2 separate regions of the Homo sapiens genome follow, and region 2 is linked to region 1. Evidence: fine-mapped expression QTL. A gene starts in region 1. The other region holds a variant in brackets. All regions are shown on one strand. Distances are between the middles of the regions. Region 1 holds the start of LZTS3 (leucine zipper tumor suppressor family member 3). Region 2 overlaps UBOX5 (U-box domain containing 5).

Region 1 (3,003 bases):
AACCTGTGTCTCTCCCAAAGCTAGGAACACTTGGGGTCTCAGAGGCCCCAACCCCAGCCCATTCTATCTCCTAAAAATCTCTAGCCAGCCCCTCCATCCAGCACCCCTGCTGGGGGCTCCTCAATGGACTTTCTTCTCCTGCACTCCCTCCCCCAGGCAGCTGCCAGGGGATTCCTTCTAAAGGGCAAAGCTGATCTTGCCCCTGCTCTGTCCAAATCCTTCCATGAGCAAGACCAAGTGCAGTAGACAGAGTTCTGGCAGCATCAGCTCCAAGTGTAAATCCCAGCTTGACTGATTAGGGGTGCAACCTCATGCAGGTTATTTCACCTCGGGTTCTCACACCTACATTGCAGGCATTTTAAGAAGTAAATGTATGATGGGTGAAATGCCTGGTATTCCTCTTGGTCCCCAGAACCAGAGCAGAGCTTGCAGCAGGGTCCCCAAGGACTCTCCTGATGCCCCTCCTCTATCTACCCTGACCTGAGCCCCTCTCTACTTCACACACAAGCTCTTGCCAGCTCTCTGTGCCCATCCTACATGCTTCTAGACCAGTTCAAAGGCTGGCCTCAGGACAGCATCCCTGATCTCCACCCCCCAGAGGGGGCATCTTGGAGCACTTGGCTGAGGACACCCCAGGGAGATTTCACTCTGAGGCCTCCCCAGGGCTGGCCTATAGGTTTCCCAGGAGCACAGAGGGCAGAGTCCTGGGGGTCTCTGGGCCCTGCACCAAGGAAATGCAGGGCAAATGCCTGTGGGAATGCTAGTTATGGGCAATGCAAAGAGGCAGTGAATCCGGGCAGGGAGAGCAGGAGGGGTTTCCAGGAAGCAGGACTGAGGGAGGAAAGGGATCTGGGGGCACTGCAGGGCTTTTGGGGTGCAGAGATATCCAGAACTTCTTGGTTGGGATGAGTGAGGGGAGATCCGTCTTCCCTCGGTGGCCTAAGCACTGGCAGCGGAATGGGCCCATCACCTAGCTACTGGCTCTGATGAAGCCAGTGTTTCAGGACTGAGGGGGCCGAGAGCGCCCCCTCCACCCCGAGCACACACACGCGCGCACACACGAGCTTCTGCTGGGGGTGGGAGGGGGGGTCGCCATTCACCAGCAGCCCACGGCCCGCAGAGCCAACTGATAGAGACCCCAGCCACAGGCCACAGGACCTGGGAGTCCCTGCGATGGGGGAAACCCCGCCCGCACCTCCCCAGGCTCCCCACCAACGCGTGTGGCCCCGGGGGGCGGGGCGCAGAGGGAAGAGGTGACATAATCCGAGCCGCACCCCCTCTGGCCGCCACCTCCCCCCAGGCCGGGCGAAGCATCCATGACATCATCCGCCTCCTCTCCGCTCCCCTCCCCCTTGGGACCCTAGCAGCGGGACGCGCCCCCTACCCAGTCCGGGTCAGGTCAGACATGCCGCGCAGTGCAGCAGGCACGGCGGCAGGTCGGAGCCGGGAGGGATGCCACGATGGGCCTGCCTCACTTACTCGCTGCCTCAGGGTCCGGCGCGGGGTCTCCGACACGGGCGCCACCGGCCCCGCTTGCTGGCGCAGCCCGAAGCACGCCCGGCGGGGCGCGCTGCGCGGGCCCGGCTCCGCTCCGCGCCCCTCCTGCTCCCCGCCCGAGCCCCGCCCACCAGCGGCTGCGGCAAACGCGAGCCCGCCCTCCGGCCACGCCCCCCAGGGCAGCCAATGCCCGGGCTGGGGCGGGGTGAGGCGCCTTAACCCCTTCGTCGCTGCGCCCCGCCCGCGCGTGGGACCCCTCAGCCTCACCCTCTCTAGGGCGCAGCAAGTCCGCCGCGAGCCCCTCTGCTCATCGCTCGTTACCCCCCAGGCCCTTGGGCTTGGGCTCAGGCCCAGTCGTTCCTCTGCAACAAATCCAATGGAACCGCGCCCTCCCTGAATCCCACGTCTAGGAAGAGGAGGAGGAGCCCCTCTTGCTTGGGGGAAGGGGCTCCCGACTCGGAGCCCCGAGCCCCATTCCTCTCCCGCGCCAGCTCTTCGGGACGCGGCCTCCCAGCGGACGCCCTGAGACCTTGCAAGTCCGCTAGGGAGGGGTCGGGACGAGCCGTCGCGGGTGGATCCGCCCGGCCGAGCAACGACCCGCCCGGGCGCGAGGACCACGGGCTGTCGTGCGGGAGGCGTCGAGGGGCAGTAAACTCCGTTCGTGACCAAACGGAGACGATTTGAAACTTGCTGCTCACACTGGATCACCGTCTGGAAGGTGCGACGGGGAAAAAATACACATTACACTCCAGCAGGATTGAACGCTTTCACCCTGTGCCCCGCGCCTGGCGTAACGCGTGGCCCCAGACCACACGCTGTAACCCGGGGTGAGAGGGAGTGAGGTGGGACTTCGTACCGGACCCGGAGCGCCGGCCTCGCCCGCGCGGGCAGCGTTCACTGTGGGGAGTGCTCACTCAGCCTAGGGCGGCCCGGGAGGACTGCCGGGAGGAGGGAGTCGGCCTTGAATTGAGGCCTCAGCCTTGAATAGGGTAGGGAGGCAAGCCTAGCCGAGAGTTTAGCACTAGCAAAAGCCTGGAGGCACCAGGGTCTGCCCTAAGAACTGCAGCGCCTCTGCTCTGGCTGGGATTTAACGCATTACGTCTCTGCTGTTTATAGGTGTTGTGTTTGGTCTTACGACTTCGTATTCTATAGTTTTTATTTATTCCTGTTTTCTGAATTTTCCCACATTTGCTTTTATCTTCTATCGTGATTTTCAAGGCAGAAAGTATTTTTAATTCTTCTCGCGGCTGCCTTTAGATTTATCAAATGAAAATAGTTTACATTTCACACATTAGTAAAGTCAGTGACAAATAATTCGTTTTTATATTCCCCCATGAGAAATTTTGTGTGCTTTTCTGCCTCCTACCTGCCGCCCTCACTACTTATATTTGTCCACTTAATCAGGACGACAGACCTAACTTTTGTTTACACTTTTTTTTTAAGCCACAACATTCTTTTTCAATCCTTGTTTTTGGCTTTTGCCAACTCTGTTTAATTGGTTTCAAT
Region 2 (2,500 bases), 64 kb before region 1:
TTGACCTCAAGTGATCCACCCACCTTGGCCTCCCAAAGTGCTGGGATAATAGGCATGAGCCACCATGCCCGGCCATGCTGGGGCTTTTCTAAGAACACAAGCACACCGGAGGGTAAGACAAGATTCTGGAGAGGCACAGACCCAGAAAGCCAGGGGCACACAGGAGCCTCGCCAGCGAGGGCGGCACAGGCCATCCATGCGGACCCTCAAATCTCATGTGAAGGCTGCATCAAGGTCAGTGCCAAGAGGAAGCAGAGCAAAGCATGTGACCACCTCTCTGAAGCCATCTTTGTGGACAAATGATGTAGGAACTCAAAAAAATGCAGGCTTGGCTAGGCGAAGTGGCTCATGCCTGCAATCCAAGCACTTTGGGAGGATCGCTTGAGCCCAGGAGTTTGAGACCAGTCTGGACAACATAGCAAGACCTTGTCTCTACAAAAAATAAAAAAATTAGCTGGGCATGGTGGCACATGCCTATAGTTCCTGCTACCTGGGAGGCTGAGGTAGAAGGATCCCTTAAGCCCAGGAGTTCGAGGCTGCAATGAGTTATGATTGCACCACTGCCCTCAAGCTTGGGCAACAGAGACCAACCCTGTCTCAATTAAAAAAAAAAAAAAAAAAGCAACTAACCCCAAACCCAGATCTCTAAAGTATTGGGTGTGGACTAGAGCTCTGGACGGCCTAAAGGAAAGGAATGTGCCGGTTCACAGGGACCCGCGGCTAAGCTCAAGGGTAAAATACAGCTTTACAAAGCATCTTTAGGCTGTTCCTTCCCAAACGTGCTTAGAAGGGAACAGGGAAAGGCGGGTGTGTTTTCTCACTGAGGTTCTTCTAGTGGCTGGAATCTGATAGAGTACCAAGTTGTAGGGATATGGATATATTTTCCCTTTGGCACTCCATAAAGCTAAATGTTGGGCTGAAAAAAGGATGCAGCCTATAAACAAGTATTTTTCCTGAAACCAACTGCATGAGGAAACGCTGCGCTCCCCCTCAGGGAGCAGTTTCTGAAGCCAGCTGAGCACAGCTGGCACTGGCCAGAGGGAGCCCTCCACCCTCCCACCACGTATGCCCACCTGCAAACCTGGGTTCTGAGTCCCCATGCAGGGGACAGACCTGAAAATTCCAGTTTGTGTCCTTTCAGGTCATCGACAGGAATGACAGCCTGGCAAGCTGCAGTGACTGCACACAGCTACCCTGTGAGCTCCACTTGTGTGGGTGCAGGTGGGCGACAGGAGTGTGTGACACAGACAGGCACTCCACCAGGAGGAAACCCACAGCAGACGTCAACCATCGCTTTATTAAGGCTGCGAGTCGGGGGGCTGAGTCATGCACTCCACAGACACCCCCACTGCTCCCAAGGTCCACTTTTGGATGACCCTGAAGGCAGAGACTCCTGAGATCTGGGCCACAATCTAGGGTGAGCCACCCACAGTGCCCTGCTGGACAGGGGGGTATGCGGACTGCACGGGGGGGCCCTCAGCAGGGGTCTTCCTGCCTAGGGTGGGGCTGGCTCCAG[T/C]GGGTCCTGGGCTCAGGCAGGGGGGGTGGCAGGGAGGCAGGGACATCCCCCCGCCCTCTGGCCTATGGCTTTGTTGCCCTATTGCCACCAGCGCAGAAGCAATGTGCTATACCGTGAGGTGATGAAGAAGAGCCCCGGGAGGGAGCAGGCAGCTCTGTGCCTGGGGCCTGGCCAGACCTCAGGGGTGCTGTGGCCCTGCTCCTGTTCCCCCTCAGCTCCTCCCAGCAATGGGTCTCCTCCAGTGGAGGTCAGTCACTCAGAAGTGGACCCGCAGCACGTCTTGGCTAGCAACCGGCCGCTGGCAGGCTGTGCACGTCATGGGCAGGGAGCGTTGCTTCTCACCCAGGCAGGGTCGGCACAGGAGGTGGCCGCAGGGCAGCTGGTACACCGGCTCCTTTTTGAAGTAGGGAGAAAATACTCTTTTGCAGGAGGCACATTCGGGGCCCAGGATGCTCCCAGGCTGCTCTGGTAAATCAGGAAGGAAAACAGGCCAGGGTTAGGAAAGCTGCTCCATGGTCCAGGCTGCTCTGAGGGGCAGAGCCTTCCCACCGTGCTGCTGCAGCATCTGGCTTCATCCCTCCCGAGTCCATCCCAGTCTGATCAGGTAGGGGAGTGGAAGCGGGAGAGGGAGCCTGGGAACCCGGGAGGCCTCTTCTCTATCATCTTTGACCAAATCTCAGTGCCTCTACGAATGCTTGAGAAGAGCTGGCTTCTGAGGGCAGCAGGCAGGACTGGGCCCTTCCTCCTGGTCTCCCAGCAAGGTTTACTTTCCCCTGCGATAGGTGGCCAAGGCTGGAGCAAGGCACAGCTCACTCTGACAAGATAAACTGCAAGAAATGTGAGAGGCGACAAGAGAAGGAAAAGGCAGGTCAGTGGGGTGGCTCAAGCCTGTAATCCCAGCATTTTGGGAGGTTGAGACAGGAGGATCACTTGAAGCCAGGAGTTCGAGACCAGCCTGGGCAACATAGTGAGATACTGTCTCTA

Evidence for each region. PIP is the estimated chance that this variant, and not a neighbour inherited with it, causes the effect. A credible set is the group of variants that fine-mapping cannot tell apart.
Region 2: its variant is the best candidate, but not a certain one, in a credible set for the expression of LZTS3 in tibial artery (GTEx, PIP 0.77).

Annotation. Positions count from the first base shown.
Region 1 is chr20:3,171,976-3,174,978 of GRCh38, forward strand. LZTS3 (leucine zipper tumor suppressor family member 3) reads right to left here and starts at 1,574. Exons shown (of 5, transcript NM_001365618.1): 1 at 1,480-1,574. LOC107985414 (a long non-coding RNA gene) reads left to right here and starts at 1,715. Exons shown (of 2, transcript XR_001754477.2): 1 at 1,715-2,215. RefSeq lists a silencer at 1,458-1,797.
Region 2 is chr20:3,108,334-3,110,833 of GRCh38, forward strand. It overlaps UBOX5 (U-box domain containing 5), which reads right to left. Exons shown (of 5, transcript NM_014948.4): 5 at 1-1,981. The coding sequence ends at 1,773. UBOX5-AS1 (UBOX5 antisense RNA 1) reads left to right here. Exons shown (of 7, transcript NR_038395.1): 2 at 1,142-1,417; 3 at 1,945-2,120; 4 at 2,299-2,384. Among named protein-coding and RNA genes, the nearest start is that of UBOX5-AS1, 2.7 kb to the left of the region's middle. The variant T/C (reference allele first, on the strand shown) is at 1,517.